2 separate regions of the Homo sapiens genome follow, and region 1 is linked to region 2. Evidence: fine-mapped expression QTL. Tissue or cell type: whole blood. Region 2 holds a variant in brackets; the other region holds the start of a gene. All regions are shown on one strand. Distances are from middle to middle. Region 1 holds the start of BCL2L1-AS1 (BCL2L1 antisense RNA 1). Region 2 overlaps BCL2L1 (BCL2 like 1).

Evidence for each region. PIP is the estimated chance that this variant, and not a neighbour inherited with it, causes the effect. A credible set is the group of variants that fine-mapping cannot tell apart.
Region 1: BCL2L1-AS1 starts here. The variant in region 2 is the best candidate, but not a certain one, in a credible set for the expression of BCL2L1-AS1 in whole blood (INTERVAL, PIP 0.65).

What each region holds. Positions count from the first base shown.
Region 1 is chr20:31,672,886-31,677,272 of GRCh38, forward strand. BCL2L1-AS1 (BCL2L1 antisense RNA 1) reads left to right here and starts at 2,223. Exons shown (of 4, transcript NR_187576.1): 1 at 2,223-2,330. All of the region lies in intron 2 of BCL2L1 (BCL2 like 1), which reads right to left. LOC124904883 (a long non-coding RNA gene) reads left to right here. Exons shown (of 3, transcript XR_007067559.1): 3 at 1,299-1,362. RefSeq lists enhancers at 850-4,194, 2,009-2,058, 2,079-2,128, 2,461-2,755, 2,726-2,825 and 1 more and a cis regulatory region at 3,126-3,143.
Region 2 is chr20:31,698,494-31,702,880 of GRCh38, forward strand. All of the region lies in intron 2 of BCL2L1 (BCL2 like 1), which reads right to left. The region is part of intron 3 of BCL2L1-AS1 (BCL2L1 antisense RNA 1); the gene reads left to right. Among named protein-coding and RNA genes, the nearest start is that of BCL2L1, 22 kb to the right of the region's middle. RefSeq lists enhancers at 1-508, 892-941. The variant T/G (reference allele first, on the strand shown) is at 2,534.

The sequences.
Region 1 (4,387 bases), 26 kb before region 2:
GGAGAGATGGAGTCTCACTACATTGCCCAGGGTGGTTTCAAACTCCTGGCCTCATCCTCCTACCTTGGTCTTCCAAAGTACTGGGATTATAGGCATGAGCAACTGTGCCCACCCTTCCCACTTCTTCCAAGTAGTGTGACTTTGAGCAGGTTACTTCACCTCTCTGGTCCATGGTGTCCTTGCTTTTTTTTTTTTTTTTTTTTTGAGATAGCCTCTCACTCTGTTGCCCAGGCTGGAGTGCAGTGGCATGATCTTGGCTCACTGCAACCTCAGCCTCCCAGGTTCAAGCAATTCTTCTGCCTTAGTCTCCCAAGTTGCCTGGGATTACAGGCACCCGCCACCACACCTGGCTAATTTTTTGTAATTTTAGTAGAGGTGGGGTTCCACTATGTTGGCCAGGCTGGTCTGGAACTCCTGACCTCAGGTGATCCACCTTCCTTGGCCTCCCAAAGTGCTAGGATTAAAGACATGAGCCACCGCACCCAGCCCTTACTTGTTAACAGTAATAAAATACTTTAGGAGCTGAGGCAGGAGGATTGCTTGAGCCCAGGAGTCTGAGACCAGCCTGGGCAACACAGGAGGACCCTGTCTCTACAAAAAAATTAAAAAAAAAAAAAAAATTAGCTGGGTGTGGTGGTATGCATCTATGGTCTCAGCAACTCAGGATGCTGAGGAGGATCTTTGAGCCTGGGAGGTCAGGGCTGCATTGAATCATGTTTGGGGCCACTGTACTCCAGCCTGGGCAACAGAGTGAGACCCTGTCTCAAAAAAACAAAAGATAAAAGCAAAGAAACAAAAAACTATTATTATGACAGCTGACCATTACCAAACATTTCAGTGTTTCACCTGTGCTGGGCACTGAGCTATAAAGCAGTCTATGCACACTAGGCCATATTTCCCAATTACATGTACAATCATCATATTCACTTGAGAGATTATTTTTTGTCCTGTCTCCCCCACTTGACTGTGTGTGGCTCTGTCACCTGTATCTCTAGAACCTGGTGTGCTATACTTGGAACACAGCAGATGCCATTCTAAATAAATCTATTTTAGAAGAACAAATGAATGCTTTCATTTGATCCTCATAACATTTATCAATAGCCCCATTTTACATATGTGAAAATGGAGGCTCCAGAATTTACCCAAGATCCCTATCTAGGAAGTGGCAAGAGTAGGATCTGTCTGAGTTCTGGCCTCACACCATTCTTTTTCTTTTAATCTATCCAAGATAGTACTTCATTCACACTCATTCTGATGTCCAATCTTGCCATCTTAGACCCTGCTATCTCTACCCACAGAAAACCTGACTTCCTTAGTGACTTCAGCAGCAGCGCACACTTCCTGAGCACATACTCTGTAAGGTACTCTTCTTGGTTTTTTTGTAGATTAGTTCATTAGTTGTCTCTACACTCTGTCAGTGGGTACTACCATTAACCCATATAGCTGATGGATATGTGGCCCACAGATGATCTGTGAATTGCTCAAGGCCATGTAGTGAGCTGGTGACCTAACTGGGATGCCTACACCAGCAATCTGGTTCAGTGCCTTTACTCCTAACGTTGATGCAGTACTCTGCTCAGTTTCTAAAGGACAATCATGGGCCAGGTCCATGTACTTCTGTGGCTGAGGAAGGCCTTCATTCTAAGTCCAGGTAACCTGAGGCTCAGAGATACTGAGACCTAGCTAAAGTGGATAAGTGGCAGCTAGCTGTGATGGCTCACACCTGTAATCCCAGCATCTTTGAGAGTTCAAGGTGGGCAGACTGTTTGAGCTCAGGAGTTCGAGACCAGCCAGGGCAATATGGTGGGACCCCCATCTCTATAAGAAAAATCTTAGAAATTTAGCTGAGTGTGTTGGCATGCACCTATAGTCCCAGCTACTCAGGAGACTGAAGTGGGAGAATTGCTTGAGGCTGGGAGGTTGAAACTGCAGTGAGCTGTGACAGCACCACTGCACTCCAGCCAGGGCGACAGAATGAGACCCCGTCTCAAAAAAAAAAAAAAAAAAAGGGAAGCCATTTTTAAGCCCCAGTATGTTTGGCAGCAAACCCCATATTCTGAGCCAGGGCCATGGCCCTGGGTCTGTCAAGGAGGGTAAAGTAGCCTGAGGCCATCAGCTGAATGAATAAGCACTGGCTCCTGCCAGCTGAGGGGAACTGGTGCCACAGGAAAAGGATGTGACGAAGACCAGGAGGGAAAGTGAAACCCTTCCGTCCTGGCTTCAGTGAGGAACAAGCATGCCTGTGCCAGACGAACCCTTCCTTCCTCTTGGGTGACTCTGGAGGGCCCAGGCCCATTGCTTCCTTCCTGCTTGGTTATTTCAGGAAAGAGGTAGGTGGAGAAGAGGAAGAGGCTACTAGCAGCCAGGAAAAGTGCCAGGGACACCAGAACTGTACCTTGTTCTGTCCTTCTCACATCCCTGCATTGGCAGGCTGTGAGTCACCTGCAGAGTCACCTTATGCTCCTGGCCTCAGTTTCCCTGAGGGAGAGGCTGATAAATGTGTGCTGAATAGACAAACATGGCCTTGCTAGAAGATCGCTGGGAGATGGTAGGAAGGGGGTAGGGCAAACGGAGAGGCCTTATCACTCTTTTGGCAGGGAGTTGCAGGCGGAGACTCGGAAGAAGTGAGGTTTGTGGTTGGAATCCACTTCCTCTGGTTTTCCCAGGGGAGCTGTTGGCTCCCGAGATGTGAGAAGAACATGGCCTTTCTCCTCTCCCCCACGGAAACATAGGCCTGGAGGTGGGCAACTTGGAGAAGCAGCTCAGTGGAGGCAGGGCAAAGAGAGGGGTGGCAAGACTGTGTTGGGGTCAACACCTCAGTCCAGCCGGCCCAGGTATGGGTGGGTGCCACAGCAAGCCTTTTGGCTTCTGAGCCTCAGTTTCTCCTGCCTTGACCTCCCTAGCAGTAGTGGTGAGATCAGGGGGTGTCATAGAGGGCTCAAGCCATCTGGGCTATAGGGAATATTTGGTGGTATCCTCACAACAAACTTCATGTTTATCTTCCTCCAACTCTGACCTGTTCAATTCAGCTGCCAGCCTCTCCTCCTCCACCTCCTCCCCCACCATTAGTTCTAAGAAGCTGTGCCTGACAGATGCACTTGCATTTCTCAGAAAAGGAAGCGGTTGTGCCGGGAGGAGATAACACCTCCGCTGGGGAATCGAGAAAGCTATCAGGCCTAGCAGTGCGAGTGTGGGCTCTCCATCTCTCTGGCTCAGAACCAGGGTGATGGGCTTGGGGGCAAAGAGAGAGAATTCAGAAAAGCATTTACTGGGGGCAGAGATGCTCATTTGGGGGCTCATAACCTCCTTCCCTGGAACCGATGGAGATAAAACAGCTGATGTTTACTAAGTACCAGGCATGGTGCTAAGTGCTTCGTGTGTAAAGAATTTGCTTAATCCTCACAATAATCCCACCGAGTACATGCTGTTATTACTCTCCAGCTTACAGATGAGGAAACAGAGGCAGAGAGGATAAATCACCCTCCCAAGGTCACAGAGGCCACAAGTGGTAGAGTTGGGATTTGAATACAGGCAGTCTGTCTCCAGAGTCCAAACATTTAACTGTTCCTGGGTGGCTGCTATGTGCTCATATAGGCTCATCCCCTGGGATTCCGATGCCTCCCGTCATCTCAACTCTCTCATTTCAACCCTGGTGACTCCCTATTCTTTCGTAAGTAGATGGCCACAGCCCTCCATTCTTCTCCCAGTGTCCAGGGTGAGAAAAACCAATACTCACCCTTGGAACAGAGTCGGAGACTCCAGGGACCTTACAGCATGCCCATCCAACCTTCCATGTAATACTCAAGCTCACCACGAACACCCCCATTTCACAGACAGGGTTCAGAAGGGTGGAGTGCTGAAGTCCCACAGTGGGTCTGTTTCATTCTGATGGTCCACACCCATGGGAGTTGGTAGTCATCTCGAGGGCATTCTCTCCTTATGCACTTATGGAGAGCTCCCTCCTTCCTGGGTGGGACATTTCATCTTCGGACAGCCCCGTTGGAAAACTCTTCCCTGTCAGGGAGCTGATGCTCGTCTCCCTCTGTCTCCCTTGACTGGCTGGTCTTAGTTCTGCTCTCTCTCCGCTGCTGCTCTCCTGCTCTCCTCCAAGTATCAGTTGTCTCATTTGTGAAATGGAAGTGCTATCTGGATAAAGGCAATTAATTTCTACTTCTCTACCAAGCTGGGCTGCCAGAGCACAGAGCAGGCAGAGAACCAATAAGTCTTGCAAACTAGATTAAGATATTTTGCTTTTGACCTCATCTGTAAAATGCGGATTAAAAAAATCCTTATTTAATTTTTTTTTTTTTTTTTGAGACAGAGTCTCACTCTGTCGCCCAGGCTGGAGTGCAGTGGCACAATCTTGGCTCACTGCAACCTCTGCCTC
Region 2 (4,387 bases):
CCAAAGTTTTGGGATTACAGGCATGAGCTACTGGACCCAGTCGATTTTCCTTCTTTTTTTTTTTGGAGACGGTCTCGCTTTGTCACCTAGGCTGGGGTATAGTGGTGTGAACATGGCTCACTGCAACCTTGACCTCCTGGACTCAAGTGTTTCTCCCATCTCAGCCTCCCGAGTAGCTGGGAATACAGGTGCGAAACACCACACCCGGCTAATTTTTGTATTTTTTTGTAGAGACAGAGTTTCGCCATGTTGCCCAGGCTGGTCTCAAACTCCTAAGCTCAAGCAATCTGCCTGCCTCAGCCTCCTAAAGTGCTCAGATTACAGGCATGAGCCACCACACCTGCCCTTTTTTGCTTTTCAATTAGTGAGTCAAGGGGAGATCTCCAATATATCTCCAATAGTGTGGTGGCTGGTCTGCTCTGAAATGTAAGCAGTTTTTTTTTGTCCCCTTGACCAGACTCTAAAAGTCTTAAGGTCAAAAAGTCCACAAATAACGTTTTGTTTACCCATCCTACAGTGCTAGGCCTAAGCCTCGGACTTAGGCAAAGGAGATCAGAAGGGTCATATGGCTAAATGTAGGTGGACAAGAGGGAGTCGGGGAGGGCCTTCCTGTGAATCCTCCTGCCTCTCAAGGACGCTCTGTTCCCTTAGCTTGAGAAGCCTTGAGGAAAGCTTTTTCCATGAACAAGCTTTTAAAAACCTTTTAGCTCTTTAAAAGCAGCAAGTACCATTCCAGTCATGACCCTGCAGACAGGTGGAACACCCATACTCCAGCCTCATTCTGAAGAGACTTGCAGAGCAGGAAGGAAGGGGTAATGACTTTCAGTTCCAGTAATGTATCTAGAAGCAGCAGCTGATTCAGCTAGATGATGTCACCTTCCCAAACCTCCTGACCAGCAGCTGAGATGGTAAAAGCAGGAAACAGGGGATACTCAGCTGGCTAAGTCCGAACATGCCTCTGGCAAAGGCCTACAGTAACCCCAGGCTCTGGAGGCATCCTCCTGAAGATGAGGAGAAAGAGTCCTCTCAGCTGGGAGTACAGTAGGTGTCCTTCAAGACCCTCAAACCAAGATGCTTCTCCAACTCTCCTTTTGCTAAGCAGCTTTCTGCATATCCTGAACCAACAATCCTTCATTTATTCCAAGAGTGGAGCAGGGGAAAGAAGCCTGGCTTTAGAGCCAGCCCAATCTAGGTCCAAATCCAGGATTCACCACGTAAAGCTGCAGGACCCTGGCATGCAACTTCACTTATCCAAACCTTAGTTTCTTTACTGGAAAAGAAAGTAGGGCTAATGGACCATTTAGCACACAGTCTAGGTGAGGGAATTAAATGAGAAAATGCATGTAGAGTACCTGACATGGGCTAGGTGCTCAATAAATGGTAGTCAACCATTATCCCATTGGATCTCTGCAGAGGAGATTTGAAAGATCACCTCCATCTATAACACAAAAGGAAACAAAGGTACCAACTAGACCCAACAGTGTCAAAGCTGAGTAACTGAGTTGGCCCATGCATATAGTTGCTTCCTAGATATTCCATTACTCAGTTTCATTTTCTGTACAGCATTTAACCCAATCCCTGAAATAATCTTGTTTGTTTCTCGGGCTAGCTGTCTCTCCCATTAAAGTAAGAGTTCTACAAGAGCAATGTCCTTGACCTTATCTTGTTTATCTTAGCATCTTCAGCATGTAGCACAGGGCCTGGCACATAGTTGGTGCTCAATAAACATTTGCCGAATCGCCAAATGAATAGCACCTGGGATGGCCAAAAGCTAAACTGACAATGGCCCCACACTTAACTCCTCCCCTCACTATTAGTTGAAGGCTCTGGCTCCCATTTCAGAAGCTGCCATTGCCACCTGGGAATCAGCAGCCCAACCAGTGGCCAGCATGGGCATTAGTCCCTGGGCACGACCTATCTATTGGGATACCAGGGCTGCCAAGGAGGGCCTTGGAATCCTCCCCCTGGCACTTGAAGATCCTACAAACCTGGTTCTAGCTGACCTTTTTGGCTTTATTACCTAATGAAAGAGACCCCTCCACATATGCCTAAAATTTGACTGCCACTGCCCACGGGTCTCTTCTTGAGAGTTGGTCTCAGCCTGCAAATCTTAACCCACATTGACTCTCCTACTGGGAGCTACAGCCCCTCTTTTCTCCGCTTTGTGGTAAGGCTCGGTGTAAACCTCACCTCTTCTGTGAAGTCCTTCCCTCATTTGGCATTTAGCATTTATTGTTGGCTTTTACAAGATCTCCTTTCATGTATATTATGTCTTTTCTCTCTAATTCAACTGGAAGTATCTTGAGAGCAGAACTGGGTTTCCAATGGCAATATCTCAATTAATAAACCTTCTACAGAAAAGACTCCTTGAAACAAAGTTAGCTAGGTCCAGAGAGGACTGGAGAGGGGTCTAGGCTCCTCCCTGCTGGACCAGCCCCTTTGGCAAAAAGAGGAGATCGTGTTGCCTCAATCCAGGAGCCCAGCTGATGAGGCAGGAAGGGAGCCAGCAAATCCTAGACTATTAGGTGCAGTC[T/G]GGGACAATCCCAAGGTCATCTATGTAATTAGATTTTTTTTTTTTGGAGACGGAGTCTTGCTCTGTCGCCAGGCCGGAGTGCAGTGGTGTGATCTCAGCTCACTGCAACCTCCGCCTCCTGGGTTCAAGCGATTCTCCTGCCTCAGCCTCCTGAGTAGCTGGGATTACAGGCACGCGCCACCACACCTGGCTAATTTTTTGTATTTTAGCAGAGACAGGGTTTCACCATGTTGGCCAAGACGGTCTTGATCTCCTGACCTCATGATCTGCCCACCTTGCCCTCCCAAAGTGCTGGGATTACAGGCGTGAGCCACCACGCCCGGCCTGTAGTTAGATTTTTAAAAAACCATCATTTTAAATGAATCTGGGCAATATTTAGTTATAAAGAATGGCATAAAAACTGCTCAGTTCAAAGGACTTTTGTAACATACATTTGTGTGAACTAATTTTACTTTTGGCTCGTCTTCTTACCCATATTTTCCTTTCACCCGACTCCCTTAGCTACATTATCCTTTTGGTTGTATGAATTTTCCTAAGTTGCTTCCAACTCTTTGTAAAACAGAGCAAGGTTCCAATAAAAAATAAGATTGGTCCAGTTTTCTTTTAAGTGGTACAGTGGTATATATAAAAAATGATGTTCCAAACAACTCATTATAACAATTAAGAATAAGTGGCAAAAATAATGCATGTAAATCACTGAATACAGTGCTTGGCACTTAATGAGCATTCAAAAGTAGGATGAAAGAACACTATTAATTCTCATTAGCTTCTCTTCTCTGGGCCTCAGTTTTTTCATGTCTTAGGTTTTGTTCATTTGTTTAATAATTTATTCAAAAAGTATTCACTGAATGTTTACTACCTGCAAAGAACAGCTGCAGACACTGGAGATACAATGATGAACAAACCAAACGCCCTATAATCATGGGGCTTATATTCTAATAGAAGAGACAGACAAAAACAAGTACACAAACAAAAAGAAAATTCCAGGTAGAGGCTGTTGCTATGACAAAACTACAAGAAGACTGGAGAGGGATTTAGAAATAGCATGGCTACTTTAAACTGAAGGTCAAGGAAAGTCTCTCAGAGGAGGTGACCAGCAAGCTGAACCAAATGTAGGCCTCAGAAAGGAAATACTAGGGGCAGAACATTTCAGGCAGAGAAAAGAGCAACTACAAAGGCCCTTGGGCAGGAAGAAGTTATGCCAGGATCCAGAAGCAGCAAGGAACCCATGCGGCTTGAGTGGAGTAAGGGAGAGACAGAATGATGGAGGGGCAGCCAGGACCAGATCACACAGGCCTCAGAGGTTGGTAAGAAGTCTGGGTTTTGCTGGGTGCAGTGGATCACACCTGTAATCCCAGCACTTTGGGAGGCTGAGGTGGGCAGATCACGAGGTCAGGAGTTCGAGACCAGCCTGGACATCATGGTGAAACCCCATCTCTACTAAAAATACAAAAATTAGCTGGGCGTGATGGCAGGTGCCTTTATTTTTTTATTTTTATTTTTTGAGATGGAGTTTTGCTCTTGTTGCCCAGGGTGGAGTGCAATGGTGCGATCTTGGCTCAACACAACCTCCGCCTCCCAGGTTCAAGTGATTCTCCTGCCTCAGCCTCCTGAGTAGCTGAGATTACAGGCATGTGCCACCAAGCCTGGCTAATTTTGTATTTTTAGTAGAGACGGGTTTCTCCATGTTGGTCAGGCTGGTCTCGAACCCCCAACCTCAGGTGATCCACCCGCCTCAGCCTCCCAAAGTGCTGGGATTACAGGGGTGAGCCATCGTGCCCGGCCAGTGGGCACCTTTAATCCCAGCTACTCAGGAGTTTGAGGCAGGAGAACCGCTTGAACCCGGGAGGCGGA